Regions from separate parts of the Homo sapiens genome. Here all the other regions are linked to region 2. Evidence: fine-mapped expression QTL. A gene starts in region 2. Each other region holds a variant in brackets. All regions are shown on one strand. Distances are from middle to middle.

Evidence for each region. PIP is the estimated chance that this variant, and not a neighbour inherited with it, causes the effect.
Region 1: its variant is the best candidate, but not a certain one, in a credible set for the expression of NBEAL2 in blood mononuclear cells (TOPMed, PIP 0.77).
Region 3: its variant is the best candidate, but not a certain one, in a credible set for the expression of NBEAL2 in whole blood (TOPMed, PIP 0.76).

The regions. Positions count from the first base shown.
Region 1 is chr3:46,948,034-46,954,344 of GRCh38, reverse strand. All of the region lies in intron 1 of CCDC12 (coiled-coil domain containing 12), which reads left to right. Among named protein-coding and RNA genes, the nearest start is that of CCDC12, 26 kb to the left of the region's middle. RefSeq lists a silencer at 5,812-6,106. The variant C/T (reference allele first, on the strand shown) is at 2,708.
Region 2 is chr3:46,975,936-46,981,834 of GRCh38, reverse strand. It overlaps NBEAL2 (neurobeachin like 2), which reads right to left and starts at 2,169. Exons shown (of 54, transcript NM_015175.3): 1 at 1,923-2,169. The coding sequence starts at 1,973. It overlaps CCDC12 (coiled-coil domain containing 12), which reads left to right and starts at 5,090. Exons shown (of 7, transcript NM_001277074.2): 1 at 5,090-5,198. The coding sequence starts at 5,103. RefSeq lists enhancers at 334-1,114, 1,115-1,895, 3,798-4,498, 5,068-5,377, 5,202-5,899 and silencers at 1,813-2,152, 2,253-2,442, 4,838-4,977.
Region 3 is chr3:47,000,775-47,007,031 of GRCh38, reverse strand. NBEAL2 (neurobeachin like 2) reads right to left here. Exons shown (of 54, transcript NM_015175.3): 28 at 5,853-6,031; 29 at 5,594-5,753; 30 at 5,206-5,343; 31 at 4,744-5,112; 32 at 4,512-4,661; 33 at 4,230-4,387; 34 at 3,951-4,075; 35 at 3,723-3,858; 36 at 3,056-3,216; 37 at 2,639-2,955; 38 at 2,442-2,537; 39 at 1,936-2,060; 40 at 1,711-1,851; 41 at 1,413-1,543; 4 more. Among named protein-coding and RNA genes, the nearest start is that of NBEAL2, 24 kb to the right of the region's middle. The variant G/A (reference allele first, on the strand shown) is at 2,676.

The DNA.
Region 1 (6,311 bases), 28 kb after region 2:
TGAACACATAGTGGTTGGGCTTTCTCCTCCTCTTCCCTCCTGGGCTCAGCCTAAGGATCCTATCTACCAGCCAGAGTTTGTGGAGAAAGGTCACCTTCTTTTGTTCTACAGGCCTTACAGATCTGGGGATGGTCAGGTAGCAGCCACATGTCCTCAGGACCAGAGAGTCTGGGTGGTTGTTCCAGTCCCTGGAACTGACCAGGTGGGCCCCCTGTGCCTGATTCCTCTGACTGTCCACTGTGAGGCAATGGGGAAGGGGTTTCTGGGTGCCACACGAAGCTGTCTCCCACCAGGGGAGGGGTCTTCCAATCTGCATGGACCTTATCATTTGCTTTTGTGATTTGCTCACTGCTGCTCCCCTCGTGAGCTTAGAATGGTGAGGAAGTCCTAGTGGTTGTGAATTCTGCTTTGTGGTGAAGGAGGCTTTTTTCCCCTCCAAGAAAAGGGAAATGGTGGGGTAGGGTGAGAGGGTGGGGAGGTGACTTCATTGCTCATCACCAGTTAGTTTCTTAACCGACATTTTTAGCCCCCCAGTAATGGAGATGTCTATCCTGATTTAAGAGGGCTTAGTCTACAATTGGCTGCTGCATTTGCTACTGTGGTTAGAGTCCCAGGCTGCAGAGGGACGCTGGTGTGTGCAGGCTCAACCTGTCCTCTTCTGCACCAGCAAAGCTGGACTTTTTTTTTTTTTTTTTTCCAAGCTTGAGAAAAGTCATTAGGCATTGACAAGGCTGTGTCAGGCCTGAGTGCCAGCCATGGTTTCCTGCTTCCCCATTTAGCCAGGTGAGGGTCAAGAGAATCTGTTTAGGGTATGAGTCAAGATAGTGAGCCATAGTCAGCTAGGTTCCTCTGGTTACTTTTATTATTAAGTCATTTTGACAGCAGAATTAAGGAAGATGGAAAAAATACTACCCACGGTTGAGTGCGAGTCTGTGAAGTCTTTGGCCATTTGTATGTATGGTATTGCCATGGTTGCAATCATGAGTATGTAATATAGGACTCTTACCCCTGGCGTTTGTGTGTTTGTCTGTTGCATAGTGCTGCCTCGCTATTTTAATGCCTCCCCTGGCCCATCATGTGAATGCTGGCCTGCATAACTGTGCCCTACGGTGTTGGGCTCACTGCATAGTTCCACTTCTCCCTACTGTGAGAAACACAGCTCTAAACACCTCTGCATGCATTGCTCTTTTATTTCCTTGTGATGTCTTTTGGGACTGGAGTTCTTGGCCAAGAAATGACAATATTTGGGGCTCTCGATGGGTTTGATTGTATCTCTCTGAAATGACACCAGAAAGAGCTGTCAACTCTCATGTGATGACAGATGGAGGCACCCTAGACACACTTGAAACCATTTGCATGTGAAAGGTAGGGACAGGAGTGGGACAAGAGCAAAGGGCAGGGGTTCTAGAGGGAATCAGCCTATGCTTGAAGCCTGCCCTGCCATTTGCGTCCTGGCAACCTCTAGCTGTGTGACTCTGGATGGGTTACTTAATTGTCCTGGGCTTCCATTTTTCTCATCTGTGGTAGGAGAAAGGAGTGCTGACCTTATTAGATTTTCATAGTGATTAATTATTGATTATTTTTGATAATATCAGTACTACTGTTTAATTAATGGAATAATCAGTTGCCTGGCATACTGTTATTACCAAAGAATTGACAGTGTTGTAAGACATGCAGAACAGAGAAGAGTGACATTTGGGTTCGGCACTGCCCAGGGCTCACCTTCTAATGGAAAATCTTCCAATTTTATGGAACCTAGTTAAAACCACACTCCCAAGAAGTGGGCAGGGTTGGGATTTTTGTCTTCATTTTGCAGGAGAGAAGCAGAGGTGCAGATAGTTGTTGGAAAAGAGGATAGAACAGACAACTAAAGGATAAACAAGCAGCATGTGTGGTAGAAAGAACTGAGGATGTGGCAGCGGGGAGCTGGGCTTCTGTTTATTTCCCAAAACTTGTGCTCTACCCAATGGAAAGAGTATTAGGTATGACATGCACAGACCTGGTCCAGCCTCAGTTCTTGCATCTGTGCAACAAGGCTAGTGATAACCGAATACGTGGGTGCTGTTGGAAGGCTCACACAACAGAAGTTCCTGTAACATGGGAAGTTAGCATGTGCCTTCTGCCTCCCCAGGTGGTTCCTTTACTATTGGTCCAGCTGCTCTTAGTGCCAGGTGCTGTGAGCAGTGATGGAGAGGCCTCTGAGAGCTTCCAGTCTAGGAAGGAAGACAGATGTCAAACAAAATCTCATGTGGGGAAATAAAGGTAGAATCATATGTCTGGGATGGTTATCATTAGAAGGCATGGGAAGAACACCTTTGTGCTAAAAGTGGTCATGACCTTTGGCCCACACAGGAGAATGTGCTGAAACCCACCCACCGAGTTTTGTGGTGGGGTCAGAATTAAGGATTCTGTGGGGAAACTTCACAGATGGGTGGTGCCTGTTCTTGTAGCCTGGGGCCTCTTGACAATCCTAAAGGAATCAGATAGCAGATAGATCATTGTTAATTTGATCCTCATTAAGTATATATATATATATATATATATATTTTTTTTTTTTTTTTTTTTGAGACGGAGTCTCGTTCTGTCGCCCAGGCTGGAGTGCAGTGGCACAATCTTGGCTCACTGCAAGCTCCGCCTCCCTAGTTCACGCCATTCTCCTGCCTCAGCCTCCCGAGTAGCTGGGACTGCAGGTGCCCGCCACCACGCC[C/T]GGCTAATTTTCTGTATTTTTAGTAGGGACGGGGTTTCACTGTGTTAGCCAGGATGGTCTTGATCTCCTGACCTCGTGATCCACCCGCCTCGGCTTCCCAAAGTGCTGGGATTACAGGCCTGAGCCACCGTGCCCAGCCCTAAAATGATTTTTTAAAAATTGTTAATTGATAAATAATAGCTGTATATTTATGGTGTACAACGTGATGTTTCTACAATATACGTTGTAGAAAGATTAAATCAAGCTGATTTAACATTTTTTGTGGTGAGACTTTAAAATCTAGGCTCAGCAATTTTGAATATACATTATTATTAACCGATCACCATGCTGTGCAGTAGCTCCCTTAAACACACTCCTCCTGCCTAACTGGAACTTTGTGTCCTTTGCCCAACATCTTCACTTTCTCCACCTCTCCTGCAACTCCAGCCTCTGTAACCACCCATCTAGTCTCTGTTTCGGTGAGTTCTACTTTTTATTTTTTTATTTTAATTTTTAATTTTTTTGAGATACGAGTCTCACTCTGTTGCCAAGGCTGGAGTGCAGTAGTTCAGTTACAGCTCACTGCAGCCTTGACCTCGTGGCCTTGTTTGATCCTCCCACCTCAGCCTCCTGGGTAGTTGGGACCCGCCTCGGCCTCCCGAAATGCTGGGATTACAGGTGTGAGCCACTGTGGCTGGCCAGTTCTACTGTTTTAGATTCCACATATAAGTGAGATCATGCAGTATTTGTCTTTCTGAGCCTGGCTTATTTCGCTTAGCATAATGTTCCCCAGATTTGTCCATGTTGTTGCAAATGACAGGATTTCCTCTTTTTTTTTTGAAGCCTGAATAGTATTTCATTGTGTGTATATACTAAATTTTCTTACTCATTCATCCATTTATGGACACAGGTTATTTCCATTTGAGCCTCACTTTTAAAAATTAAGTTTAGCATATACAGAGACTTAGCCAAAAAAATGTAGCACTTTCAGAAAAGGATAATGTGCTCCATTCACATGAATGTTGTTACATTTTAAAAAATGGGCTGGGCATGTGGCTCATGCCTATAATCCAGCACTTTGGGAGGCCAAGGCAGGAGGATTACTTGAGCCCAGGAGCTCGAAACCAACCTTGGCAATATAGTTAGACCCTGTCTCTACCCCAAAAAAAAAAAAAAAGCTGTGCATGGTGGCATGCCCCTGTAGTCCTAGCTACTCCTATGCAGGAGGCTGAGGTGGGAGGTTTACTTGAGCCTAGGAATTTCAGGCTGTGGTAAGCTATGATTGCACCATGCATTCCAGCCTGGACAGCTGGACAACAGAGCGAGACCCTATCTCAAAAAAATGCAAATGTAGATCAATTTCTCTTCTGGTTGGTCTAATACTAATAGGCCTTCTGTTTCCCAGCATGGATCTGGGCCCTGGGTGCTGGGTCCTGGGTTCTTGTTAAGTGCTTTCTTGGTTTTTGTGTCAGGGCAAGGGGTGGGTGAGAACAGAAGGAGCATCAGGTTCCCTAAGAGGGATGCAGCAAGAACCAGGGTTCGAATTAGGCCCATCGCTGAGGGACAGCAGGACTTGGGACACTGCAAGATGTCAGCAGGCAGTTTTTTTTTCTTTTCTTTTTTTTTTTTTTTTGAGATGGAGTCTCACTCTGTCACCCAGGCTGGAGTGTGGTAGCGCAATCTTGGCTCACTGCAACCACTACCTCTGGGTTCGAGCAGTTCTCCTGCCTCAGCCTCCCGAGTAGCTGGGACTACAGGCGCCCGCCACCATGCCCGGCTAATTTTTGTAGTTTTAGTAAAGATAGGTTTTCACCATATTGGCCAGGCTGGTCTCGAACTCCTGACCTTATGATCCACCTGCCTTGGCCTCCCAAAGTGCTGGGATTACAGGCGTGAGCCACTGTGCCCGGCCAGCAGGCAGTTTTTCATGGTGCAGGGTCATGCGGGACCCTGTACCACATGGTGGACCCAAGTTGCCTTGTATAATCCTCACATGCCCCTGTTAAAGTAGTGCCAGCCCCACTTTGACAGGGGAGGAGACAGAGCCTCAGGGAGGTCCCACCACTGGTAAGCAGTGTGTCCTGATGTTCCCACCACCTGCCCAGTCCAGGGCTGCAGGCTGGGCTTCCTGCATACCACAGTGCCCCTACAGGGAGGACCCTGGAGGGAGTTTGGAGCCAGGCCAGACTTCCCAGAGGAACTCGTCCAGTCTGGCTGCATATGAAGGAAGGGGAAGAGACTGGTCTTTGCCCTGCCCTCTGTGTGACCTTTCAAGAGGTTATTTCCTGCTGGGGCCAGTGTGGGTGAAGTCTCAGGGCAGTGGGAGGGGCCTTTTGCATACTAATGGTTCTGGTTGTTCCCTCTGCTCTCTTCCCCCTCCGTCCCTCTGTCCCCACTGTCACTCATCCTTTAAGGTGACACTTCCTTTGGAAAGCCTCTGTAGACACCTCTTAATGCCACCCAAAAAAACACTGCCTTCCCTGGCTGTTGACACCTTCCCTTTTCCCCTGTGGGTCACCACCCCCTTGAGAATCTGAAGAGCTCCAGATTTCTCATCCACTAAGATTCACCTTCTCACACTCGCCTGTGTTTCTGTCTGGTCATTGACCTCTGGAATCTGTGCACCGAGGATAAGAACCCCTGCCCTGCTCTGTGGGCACTAGGTGCCTACTCGTTCCTCTTCCTCCTCAGTACCCAGCATGGAGTATCTGAGTACAGCATGGAGTACCACAGGGGAGCCAGTCAGTATTTGTCGACTGATAAAGTCTGCTGGAGGAGCTCTGTAGTGCCTCCCTTGAGCACTTGCAGCAAGAATAGGATCAGAGTTGACTTGGGCTGGCTCCCCACACTCCTGACAGACACATGGAGGATATCTGGGCAGGGCCGTGTGACGGGCCTGGCGAGGAGCTGCACTAGGCATGCCGTGGCCTGGCCCTTGAGGTGCCATATGGATGGTGGGGCCCAGCGTGCCTCTCTTCTGAGTGGAGCGGGCCCTCCTTTCCACCGCTGAGGGCACCTTGACAGGTGCTATCCCTTGGCACCAACCTTCGTCAGGCCTTGGGTGTCAAGCCTCACCGTTAGAATGCCTGAAGGCTGCCACACCCTTTCTCTTTGTCCCCTAAGTGCCACCACCTTTTTGTCAAAGGCGCCTTCCTTCCCCCAGTGAGTCACCAGCAGAACCTCAGTTGTTTCTGCTCCTCCCTGTCTCCCCACAGCGTTGAGGCACCTCCTTGTTCTAGTCCACCGCTGTTGACCTAGTTCCCGTCCTTATCTCCAGTCCTTATCTCTAGCCTCGCTGTTCTCCCAGCCTCCCGCTCAGCGCTTTGTTCTTGCTCTGCTCAGAAGCCTTTAGGGAACACATGAACCCACAGGAGAGCAGTGGCTCTTAGCTAATCCCAGCCTCTTGGATGGTAGTCACCACCTGTTCCTGCTGACTCTTGGTGAAGCACTGAATGGGGAATCAGATCTGTCTACACTGCACAGATCATCTGACGTCATCTCCTAATGTCTTGGTGAAGCAGGTATTACAACACTGCCCTGTCTGCTTACAGGATTGCTGAGAACATCTGATAAGGATGATGGGCATGGGAGCTTCCCATGACCTCTGCAGAGGCACACCGTTCTG
Region 2 (5,899 bases):
GGGCATCAGGAGGCAACCATGCTGGAGTTACTGTCCTGGGAGATACCAAGACACTCCCAGCAGCCTGCCACCCAGGCTGAAGACCTATCATTAACATCCCTCACACTCACCAGCTGGTTTAAGCCCCCTTTACCTGCCCATGCACCTAGAGCCTGCCCATAGCTATGGGGCAGTCCGAGGAAGGAGGACTAGGGTAGGCTTCTCTTCAAACCCTCTGCTCCTTCACAACCACTGGGGATGCAGGCAGAGAAGCTGGGGCGAGGGGACCCAATGGGGCCAGGAAAACAGGAGCCTTCTCTGGTCTGGACCAGCTATAATGGCTACCTCTCCACAGAGTCCAGGAAGCCCCTGAGGTCAGGGCTGTGTCAGTTTTTTATTTTTATTTTATTTTTTTGAGACGGAGTCTCACTCTGTCACCAGGCTGGAGTGCAGTGGCGCGATCTCGGCTCACTGCAACCTCTGCCTCCCTGGTTCAAGCGATTCTCCTGCCTCAGCCTCCCGAGTAGCTGGGATTACAGGCACACCCCACCACGCCCGGCTAATTTTTGTATTTTAGTAGAGATGGGGTTTCACCATGTTGGCCAGGATGGTCTCGATCTCCTGACCTTGTGATCTGCCCGCCTCGGCCTCCCAAAGTGCTGGGATTACAGGTGTGAGCCACCGTGCCCGGCCAGGGCTGTGTCAGTTTTACAGGCAGGAAGCAGAGGCTCAGAAGTCGAGTTCGATCTGAGTTATACCAAAGAGGGACTCTACTCCATGCCTGGCCTCCTGCTGGGGCCTGGACCTCTCACAACCTGAGCGGACTGAAGAGGCTGTGGTCCTTCTGGCCTGGACTCCAGGTCCGTGGAAGACAGTGGGCCAGCCTCCTTATGGAGGGCCAGCGTGTCTGAGCATGAATTCCCCCCACTGACAAACTGTTCAGGGCACACAATGGTCCATTGTGCCCAGGGCACACCTGAGCCAGGAGCATGATGCCAGGCAGGTGCAGGGAGGGAGGTGCTGGGTGAAGGGGAGGGGAGTGTTACCCTGGGATCCCTCCCTGCTGTGGGTACAGAAGGAAAATGGGGGACTATGTGTGTGAGACGGTGTGAGTGATACCAGGTTCTCAGCTGATGGGACACCCACGTCTGAGTCACTCCCCTCACCTTCTGACTCCACCTGAAGTATTTTCTGAGATGGGTGGGGAGCTCAGGAGGAACGGGCCTCCCTCCAACCTTTTCAGACATCCCTCAGGGCCTCAAGGACCCACCCTCACCCTGGGCATCCAGAGGAAAACCTTTTCTTCTGCTCCTAGAGAGGTCCTGGGTCTACCCCTCAGAATGGGGGTGGGGTGGGGTGGGTCATTTCAAGTCAGGGAAGAGCTTATCACAGCCTGTTCGCTGGGGTGTGGGGGGATGCAACTCAAGAAGGACCTGAAGTGGGAGCATTCCCCTTCCACACACCTCCCTACCTTGGCCCACACCCCCAGACCCGTTGGCCACGACCACCCAATCAGGCCGCGCCCAAGGGAGAGGCAGCTCATAGACAAATTGAGTCCCCCTCCCCCTAGCCTCCTGGCCAGTCTCCAGGTCTCTCCAGGTCTCAGTTTCCCCATTTGTAAAAAGGCCAAGTGTCCGGCCGCCTCGGCCCAGGCCACTCTCCTCTAGCAAGAAAGACTCAGGCTGCACGGTCCTGCTCGCGGGGGTGGGTTGCTATGAAGTGCACGACCGCGAGCTCTGTCCCCAAGGCATAAGTGCCAGAGGCACCCGGCGGGCTGGGGGCACACACGTGTGTGCGGAGCCGGAGCATGCCCTGCGCGCGCGCGCCCGCGCGCGCGGCTACGCGGCCCCAGCGGCGCGGGGCGCCAGGTGCAGCAGGCGCGGGGCGCGCGAAGCTGGGGGCACCGCGGGTGCGGGTGCGGGCGCGGGGCGGGGCGGGCTCACCTGCGCGTAGTAGAGCAGCCACAACTCGTACAGCCGCTCCGAGGCGGCCATGGCCCGGCCCGGCTCCGGCCCTGCTGCGCGCCACCTGTCGCCGCCTCCTCCGCGCCGCCCGCCGGTTGCCCTCGGCCAGGCCCATGGGCGGAGGGCGTCACTCCGGGGCGGAGCGGCGCGGTACTACTGGGGAAGTCTGCGGCTGTGGCCTCCGCGGCGCAGAGCCACCCAAGTCTGCTCGCTCCTCCTCCTCACTGCCGGCCGCCGCCCAGCTTCCTGCACTTCGCTGCAGTCACCGCCGCCCCGCCTCTCCTGGGACCATGTAAAGGGCGGAGAGCCTGGCAGGAGGAGGGGCCTATGGGCCGGGCGGCCCGGGAGGGTGCCCCGCTGCCCTGCCCCACCAGTGCCATTGGAAGGGCCAGCCTGAGCCTCCGGGACGAGGGTCGGGGTGAGGAATTCCAGACTTCCCCAGGGTCTGAATCCGCCCAGGACGCTGCTCGCCTGACTGCATTTGCCGCCATTCAGGGAAGGGGCGGCGGGCCGCGTGGAGGTGGCGAGGGTCCTTCAACAATAATCTCCACCACCACCATGACGACCCCTTGTAGCGCTTATCAAATGCCAGGTGCTACTCTGTCGCTTTATGGGAAGACCGAAACGCAACTTTTGAGCTCTAGCTGTTTGTGGAGTGTGATGGCGGGAAGTTAGAGAGTAGCAGGACTAGCCTGAAATACCTTCGGGGCCGCGGTGCCCTCCCAGATCCCAGAGAGGCTTAGACCGTTGCCACGGGTCCCCCTCCCTCCTCCAGGAAGCCTTCCCAAACGCTCCAGTGGAGGGGCTCCCCCCATTCCCCAACTCCAGGGCCCAGAACTTGCTTCACATATGTTGTTTCTTTAACCTCAACAGGTGGGTGCCTCATGGCTCTGTTTTTTGTTTGTTTTTGAGACAGAGTCTCACTCTGTCGCCCAGGCTGGAGTGCAGTGACTCGATCTCGGCTCACTGCAATCTCCGCCTCCTGGGTTCAAGTGATTCTCCTGCCTCAGCCTCCTGAGTAGCTGGGACTACAGGCGCGTGTCACCAGGCCCAGCTAATTTTTTGTATTTTTAGTAGAGACGGGGTTCCACCGTGTTAGCCAGGATGGTCTGGATTTCCTGACTTCATGATCCACCCGCCTCGACCTCCCAAAGTGCTGGGATTATAGGCATGAGCCACCGCACCCGGCCGGCTCTGTTTTACAGATGGAGAAACTGAGGCCCAAGTTGACCAAATGAGGACCACTTGGGCAGCAGGGGCAGGGACCCAGGCTTGACTGACTCTTTTTTGGGTCCCTGCCACCATCACCCCGTGCCCCCTTCCCCATCCCCTTACCTCACAGTCTGGACACGGGGAAAGGGGCACGGGGTGATGGTGGCAGGGACCCAACCCCTGGTGTTGGGCAGGGATCAGGCTCTTTGTTGGGGCTGGGGAGAAGTTTTCTGGGCCCAGAGGGGTGCTACTCGTTCCAGGAGTTGACCAGTCTGGAGACTCCTAGACCTTGGTTGGCCAAGACAACAGAGACCCTGTCCTGTTTTGTTCTCCCAGCTTCTTGGTTCACCTCTGGCCTTTTGTCCTGCTTCATCCATCATAGCTCTGAGCTGAGGTTTCCTGAGCACCTCCAAACTGCATGCCAGGCCTTGGCAGAGCAACCCATCCACTACAGGGAAGAAGGCTTAGACAGACCCAGGTTAGTGAGGACAAGAGGGTTAGTGAAGGGAGGGCTAGATCTGCAGTCTGTGGCCCATGGGCCTCTGAAGGGAGTTGGAAGGGGAAGAGTGGATGTCCACCTGTAGCCAGCTTGGGAAGGGAAGACTCAGGGAGGGAACAGCCTAAGAGGCTAGTTGTCCCCTGGCAGTGGAGGTGGAGAGGGGGCGGCATGGTCTCCTATTCCCAAGTGAGAGGGGGTGTGGCTTTGGGGACCCCCACATACTGAAAGAATATCTTGACTTCAGCCTAAGTGGTCTCGCGGTTATCAGGACACTCTAGTTCATGCAGGAAAGAAGACTCTGGCAGCTTCTGCTGGGTAGCCATGAATCTTGTGGCGACTTGCAGTCGAGGCCACCCCAAGTCTTTCTAAGCTGGGGATTGGGGGCAGTACTTGAGGCCCACTGGACCCAGGTTGGGGTTTGCTCTTCCCCGGGAAAGGTAACTTGACCCTGAGGACTTTGCTGCTCCAGGAGGGGATGGGAATGAGAGGGGATCATCTTTGAGTCCAGAGGGAAACAGCCATACAGTCAGGTCCCCCTCACTGTGCAGGCTTTGTCTGAGCTGAGAGTGGTCACAGAGGGGCTTAGGGGCGCTTGTCAGGTGAGTCCGGGGAGCCACTGACAGCTGCAGAGGTGTAAGTCATACCTTGTATTAGGGTGGGATCGAAGTGGAGGATCAGGGAAGGCTTTTTTTTTTTTTTTTTTTTTTTTGAGACGGAGTCTTGCTCTGCTGCCAGGCTGGAGTGCAGTGGCACGATCTCGGCTCACTGCAACCTCCGCCTCTCTGGTTCAAGCGATTCTCCTGCCTCAGCCTCCCGAGTAGCTGGGATTACAGGCACGCGCCACCACGCCCAGTTAATTTTTGTATTTTTAGTAGAGATGGAGTTTCACCATGTTGGCCAGGATGGTCTCCATCTCCTGACCTCGTGGTCCGCCCTCCTCGGCCTCCCAAAGTGCTGGGATTACAGGCGTGAGCCACCGCGCCCGGCCCAGGGAAGGTTTCTTGAAGGCATTCGAGCCTTGTCAGGTCAAGTGGACAAGGATGAGTCAGGGCATTCCAAGAGGCCAGCATGGAGTGATTAGTGTGGTTAGTACTTGGGCAAAACCGGAGCGATCGACGCACTCTTTTCTCCTTCTCTCAGGTCTGAATTCCACTTGCTGCTCTTTCACTGATCAGCGTTGGATAAATCGAGCCTTAGCTTTTTTTTTTTTCTTTTTTTTTTTTGCTGGCTCCCCACCCACTAGGCAAGTTGTCCGGAAGAATAAGGGCGGGGCGGGGCGGGGCGGGGCAAGGCGGGGAGGGCTCGCCCATAATAACCCCGCATTGATTGGCTTTCAGGACCTCCCAGTCTCTCATTCTCGTCCTTGGATTGGCCGCGAGACATTTATCCACTCTCCTTAGGCCTGCGCGATGCAAGACGGGAGAAAAGGAGGGGCGTACGCGGGCAAGATGGAGGCAACTACGGCTGGTGTGGGCCGGCTAGAGGAAGAGGCGTTGCGGCGAAAGGAACGGCTGAAGGCCCTACGGGAGAAAACCGGGCGCAAGGTGAGAAGTGTGGAGTGAGGGTCGCAGTTGAGGCGTCCAGCGTTCGGGGTCCGGGTCGCGCTTGAGGAGAGCAAAGGGCTAATAAGGAAAGACAGCTGCCGAGGGCGCGCATGCGCGGGCGCTAACGCATGCGCGAGAAGACGGCGCCCTCCCACGATGTCTGGGGCTGCTTGGCGTGGGACTCCTCTGGCGCTGGTGCGGTCGTCGCGCATGCGCGGGGGTGGGCAAGGCAGTGGTCAGCGACCCGCAGTCCATCTGACTCCTGCTTCCCGGGTGTTGCTCGTGTAGGTATCTAGGGCTGCCTGTAGGTTCAGATGCTTGTTGGGTTAGGCGTGATTTGTTCCGTTCCTCTATGGCCTAGCTGGTCTTTAACCCCCGCCTTCGATTCTGAGTCAGACAGACTCCCCAGTCCGGCAGCACTCCTTGGACAGGGCAGCAAGTGACAGCAGTGGGTATACAGCCGGAGTCGTTTCGTGCAAAAATCAAAAAGAGGCCGGGCACGGTGGCTCACGCCTGTAATCCCAGTGCTTTGGGAGGCCGAGGCAGGCGGATCACTTGAGGTTAGTAGTTCGAGACCAGGCTGGGTAACATGGTGAAACCCCGCCTCTACTAAAAATACAAAAATTAGCCGGGCGTGGTGGTGCGCGCCTGTAATCCCAGCTTCTCGGGAGGCTATGGCAGGAGAACCGCTTGAGCCTGGG
Region 3 (6,257 bases), 25 kb before region 2:
GTACTATCAGATTACACTATCTGCTCCCTGAAGCATCATCCCTTCCTTTACTGTCAGTCCCCAGGGGTCATAGAGTAGGTGTCACAGATGCAGAGGTTCCCTCCAAGAAACAGGCAGAGACTTTAGGAGGGCATCTCAGAAAGTGGGTGAGAAGCTGGGACAGACATGGAAGATGCTTCCAGAGTATCACACTTAGTTTCAACTTGGTCCTCTCACCCTGTTATTCCTTGTCCCCCTAGCCCAAAGGCAGGAAGAGAGGGAAACCTAAAAAAAAAGTCAGGCCTGGGGGCAACATTCAGGAATGTTCCTGTCTAGGAAGGCGATGGAAGGGGTCCAAGGACAGATCTCCCTCCTGATCTCCCTAAGGCTTTCAGAGCTTGTTGAGTCGACACTTTATCCTGGCCCTGATGAAGAAGGCACCCCTCCTGCCCCCATACTCTTCCCATGTTTAGCTCATTTTCTAAGGTGCCTTGAAATCAGTGACCTTGATTAGGATTCCCATCTGCCCCACGTGGTTGGTAAGGACAGTGGGGTTAAACCCATTTCACAGAATATAAAGTTGAGGTCTTGTCTTCCTTTCACCTCTGCGAAGAATGCCTTGAGTTCGTCCAGGTGCTGGAAGATGCTAGGTGAGTTAGTGTCCAGGCGTGCAAGGCGATGGGCTGCTTCCTCAGCTGAGAGCCGAGTTGGATGTGGCTCCTGTGGGTAAGTGGCTGGTCAGCACCATGGCATGGGCATCCCTGGCCACTATCCTCTAAGCTGGCCTTACCTTCAGCAGCTGACAGGGAGTCTGCCCAAAGTTGCTGATAATGCCCTCCAGAGCCTTCCGTTCCCGCTCATCTGTCACATGGTCCAGGTCTACAGCCCCTGGGAAGGCAGGCAGAGCAGTCAGGGCTCCCTGCGTGCCCTCTGCATCCACCCGACCTGATCTTGTCCTGGCCCTGACTGGAGTCCAGCGCACTGCCCACCCTCATAGGTGCAGTAATAGAAGACATTGAGGGCCTCCTCGGCGGCTGGCCCCCGCTGCTTGTAGCCAAAGATGAGGTCGATCCACTCGTGTAGGTGTGCAGACACATACTCCGACTCCTGAGAGTAGGGAGGCAGCAATCAGTGCAGGGACAGCTGACCCCCCATGATCTTCAGAACCCCGGCTGCCTGCCGTTTGCCTGTGGTTCCTTCCTCACCAGAGCCTGGCGGTGCTGCTGGATGAAGTCCTCAGGAGAGCTGGCCCACGGGGGTAGCACCACATCGCCTACCTTCTCGTTGGTCAGCTGGAGACAGCCCAGGTCAAAACCTGGCACAGAGGACTGGGTCAGCTGTCTCCCTGTCCATCCCGACTGCCCCCTGGCCACTCCACCATCTGCTCTCCATCCCTACACCTGCCCGCTCCAGTGTGAGCACCTCACACCTACCGTTCTGGTTCTCCAGGAAGTCAGGAAAGTAGAAGAATTCCGGGATGAGCTCCTTCACATCGGCAGGGCTCTCCAGGCGTGCCTGCCAGGCTGCCGCCACCGAGTGGAACTGCCGGTCGGAGCAGTCAAAGCTGGGGGAGGGGCACGGGGCCAAGGTGAGGTGGGGAGAATGGAGACAGGGAGGGAGATGCTGTGGCTGGAGGGAAGAAGGGAGCCAGGGGTGGGCCCAGGATGTGGGGAGGACCAGCCTCCTCCCCTTATCTGCCCCCTAGTCTGCCCACCAGCCCCTGGGCCGCACCGGCCACTTTGCAGCTGGACGTGCAGGGAGGTGAAGGGCTCCACGCGGATGAGGTAGTGCATCACGCCTGCTGCATTGGAGTAGTGGGTGCCATAGTGGAACTTGTCAATGGTCCCTGCTGGGTCCTCAAAGCTTTCATACCTGGGGCCACAGTTGGACGTGTCAGCAGAAGCCCTCCCCTCGCCTTTCCCTACCCGCTGAGCCCAGCCCTGCCCACATGCTCACTTCTCCCTCACGAGCTGGGCATGCTTGGGGTTCACCACACCGATGGGCTTAGACAGGTCCCGGAAGACGGCTGGGTTGCTGAGGTCCAGGGTTGGGGACACGTAGTCCTGCAGGACCCAGGGGAACTGGCCACCCACCCGAGCAGGGGCTGCATGAGGGCCCTGATGGCCTACCAGCCCACCCTGCCCTGCCCACACCCTCAAGAAGGCGGGCACAGAGCCTGCCCACAGGTTGGGGGAGCACCACTTAGAGGGGTCACAGGGGAGAAGGACAGAGTGTCCTGGAACAGGATTCCTTTTGAGGAATAGAGGCTAGGCAGGGAGGGGAAGGGAGTGAGGCTGGGGACCTCTGGGGGTTGGCAGGGAACAGAGGCCAGGTCTTCATTGGCACATCTACCCTTGACCAAGCTCAGAGCTTGGCCCACTGGCAGGTACCTACACTTGGGGGAACCAAGGGCTGACAGGTCAGAGGGGCAGGGGTGGAGGGGTGCAGAGTGGGACCCTCACCACAGGGTACTGAGACAGGTCATTGTAGGTCCGCCCCGCAATGGTGTTGAGTTGCATCAAGTACTCGAAGTTGGATATCTCACGCTGTACCCATTTCTGGGGACAGGGGCAGACAAGATGTGAGCCAGGTGGGCTGTCCAGCACTGCCCCGTGATTCAGGGTCCCGACTTCACATCCCTCACACCCAGGGCTCTCACCTGGGTAAGGCCTGAGGCACGCAGCATCTCCTGGGGG[G/A]AGCGGCTGCTTAGGTAGCCTTGAGAGGGGGGCCGTAGGCGCAGGAGCCACGAGTACACCTGGTTCCGTACCTGGGTATGGGGTGGGATGGGGCCAGGCTGGGGTCTGGGAGTCTGGCTAGGAGATGAGACTGGGGTCGTGCCCACCTTGCATGGGAAGTTGAGGAAGTAGTTGGCCTGATCGATAAAGAAGAGCTCAAGTGCTGAACGGCGCAGGTTGAAACGCCGCAGGTGGACCTCACGCAGCTGGGCCAGTGGGCGCCGGAAATCATAGCCGATGCCTATGGGGAGGAACAGCAGGTACGGGAGTCACTCACCCCAGCCCCACCCAGAGCTCAGCCATTCCCTGCCATCCTCCTAAACCACACCACCAGGACGCACCCTCCTCGGTTTCCACGCGCTCAGTGCTGCCATCGTAGAAGTATACATTCTGTGTGGTGACCTCCAGCAGCCCTGGGACCACGGCCACTACCGTCACCAGCTGGCACTCGGCCGACAGCACCAGCTTCTCACGCTGCTCATCCAGTTCTGCTGCCTCCATCCTAAAGACCAGCAACCCACCTCACGCTGTAGGCTCTGGGACCCCCTTCTTCACAAGCCCAAAGGGCATCCAAGTGCCATTGAGTCATGGGGTATATACTCTCATGACTCCCAGAGATGGGGAGGGGCTGCCTAGGGTCCAGAACCTACTGGTCCCAGCCCCTGTCCCCCACCTGCCACCCACTGGGCTTCTGAATATTTTGCCAGGATGCCAACCCTTGTCCCCTGCTCCCCTCACCCAGCCCCTGCCCACTCCCTGGGCCCCCTTCCTGCTCTGGTTTGTGTTTCTCAGTGCTGTCCTCAGGTGCCTGGCTGTTAAAAGAGCAACTCTCAGCCCTGTTAGGAGACTCTCCCACTCACCATCTGGCTTTGGACAGTCCCTTCAGGGGGACGTAGTCGGGCAGCAGAAGAGGACACACTCAGGGAGTTGATCCCACAGAGGCATGCACACACTGGAGCAGACCCCTTGCCCACCACACCAGTCCAATCTCTCCAGGGCCCCACTCACGGGGTCTCCAGCTCAGCCAGCTCGTCCTCGCCGAGCTGGTCCTCCTGCAGCAACTCGGGTGGGGTGCTCACTTTGGCCTCTTTGGTCACTGCCAGAGGCAGTGAGGCCTCCTCGGTGGGTGTCAGGGGAACCTCACCTGCAAGGGGCCAAGGGTACTCAGCAGAAGCAAGGCAGGACAGGAGACGGGACAATCGAGTTGGGTGGACCCATCTCAGCACACTCCCTCACCCAGATTGTCTCGGAGAGCGCTGGCTTCCAGGTGAGGGTCGAAGTGATGGTTGGGCACCAGCTTCAGACGCATGCGTGAATATGTCTCGGCGCTGGACAGTTTCCAGCGGGGGATGGGAGTGTCCCTGCAGAATGTCCCCCAGGTCATGGGTCGGTAGAAGGCTGTAGACACCCCCATCCCTCCCTGGCCTCACCCCAAAGGCAGTCTGGGGCTCCAGGTGGCTCCCTCCCTCCCAAGCCCCACCCCTCCACAGCGACCCTGCCCCAAGCCCGGCCCACCTCAGCGCCCAGGCCCCACATGGGCTGGCGAGCTGGCGCCACAGCGCCCCCCAGTGCAGCAGGGCCATGGAGTGCTGCGTTGCCTGCTGCTTCAGCACTGCCGTGTAGCGTAGCCCCTCCAGGCGCGCCCGCCTCTGCGCAGGTTCCAGCACCAGCTCCTGGGGTGGGGGTAATAGGTCAGTCCCCTGGCTGCTGCCTGCCCTACCCGTTTCTCCACATTGTCAGTCATCTCCTGGGTGCATGTGTGGAGCAGTTTCCCATCCCTTACCCCGGGTGGCACACCTGGAAGGCCCGACGACTCTGGGCGCGCTCCCACTGGCGCCGCTGCCCACTGCTCATAAGCATGTCATAGCAGGCATTCCAGAAACCTGACATAAGGTCGTGGCTCTTAGCATACGTGTCCATTTCGAACTGGGACATGGTTGGCTGTACCTGGAGGATTGGGCAGAGGAGAACAGTGCTCGATGTGGGCCCCAGCCCCCACTCCTCTTCCTGGGCCCCAACCTCCAGGCACCTGTTTGTCGATGAAGTGGCGCCATTCGGGTGTGGCACAAAAAGCCTGGAAGTCTTCAAAGAAGGTGGGGCTGCCATTGGTGGGTGGCAGGGAGGGCAGTCCCCACTGCAGCCCCAGCGGCTCATAGGCACGGTCTAGCAGCGTGCGCACCAGTGGCACCAGCCAGGAGCAGCGCTCTGCAGCTGCTGCAGCTGCTGCAGCTGCAAGTGGGGACCCTGCCTCATCAGTGGCTGACTCCAAGGAAGAGGTGTTCAGCACCCGCCCCAGTGCAGCCTCCAGCTTGGAGAGCACATAGCAGGCCTCCTCGCGGCGGGCTGGCACTGCAGTCTGTAGCAGCATGTGCAATCTCACGTAGGCCTGGGCATGCAGCTGTGGGCGCAAGAGAGATGAGTGGCACCCAGCCACTCTTGGAGCTCCCGACATCTCACACGCCCCCTGCCCCCATGCTCACCCTGTGCTCACCTGTGGGTCTTCCAGCAGGATGTAGCCAAGTACAAGCCGTAGGCCAATCTGCGCCATCTCACGGAGATCAGCTGTGCCGTTGGCCAGGTGGGGCCAGGCTCCCAGGCGATCAAGTAGGCTGCATACACCTTCAAAGAGCTGCCACAGAAAACAGGTTCCCAACAGACATCACCAGGGGAGGCCAGGAGTCCATGGAAAGGGAGCAAAGTAAAGTTTGCGCTGGGGGCCAGGTAGGGTTTGTGCACACAGGCAAGTCCACACTCACAGGCATTCATGCTGATGCACCCACACCTGCGCACGTGTACCCATCCACCTCCCAGACCAGATCCCTGCAGGCTTGCATGAACATGAGTGTTCATGTGGCTCACGCCTCTCTGAGGGGTCGCACCTTCTCACTCCACAGTTCCTGGTTACCATGGCCTTCAGCACACAGGAAGTCCTGCAGCAGACGCAGCAGCCAAAGCGCTTGCTGGGTGAGGCTGGCCAGGACCCCCACGGGGGCCTCTTTGATGTCGGTCAGGGCTGACTCCAGCATCATCTCCAGGAGGCTGGCGGGTGAGTGGGGAACTCAAGGGTCTACCTGACTATCTTCTCTCCTTCCCCCGAGGCTTCCTGAAGCCCCTCCCCCTCCAGACTTTCCCTCTCACCTGCGCTTGATGCAGTCTGGTGGGCGCACAAGTGTGGCTGAGGCCCCCAGCTGGGTGAGCACTGAGAAAACCTGGCCACGCTCCCGCCAGGCAGCCTCATCGCTGCCTTCCACGCCACGCCACGTCACCGAGAACAGCACGTTGGTGAGCAGATTGCACAACTCTTCCTCAGAGGTTTGCTGTGGGCACAGGTGGGTGGTGTGGGCGTGGGTTGTGGGCGGCTAAGGGAGGGAATCAGGCTGACGCCCACCCATCCCCACTCAGCACCCCTCCTGGGGTAGCCACCCAGGAGTCAGAGCATTTGGCTAACAGTGAGCCTGGCACTAAGGGCCTGGAAGAATGGTATAGGGGTCTCAACTACTACCTGAGTTCCAGGCAGAATCCTGGGGTCTTGCCAGACTCCCA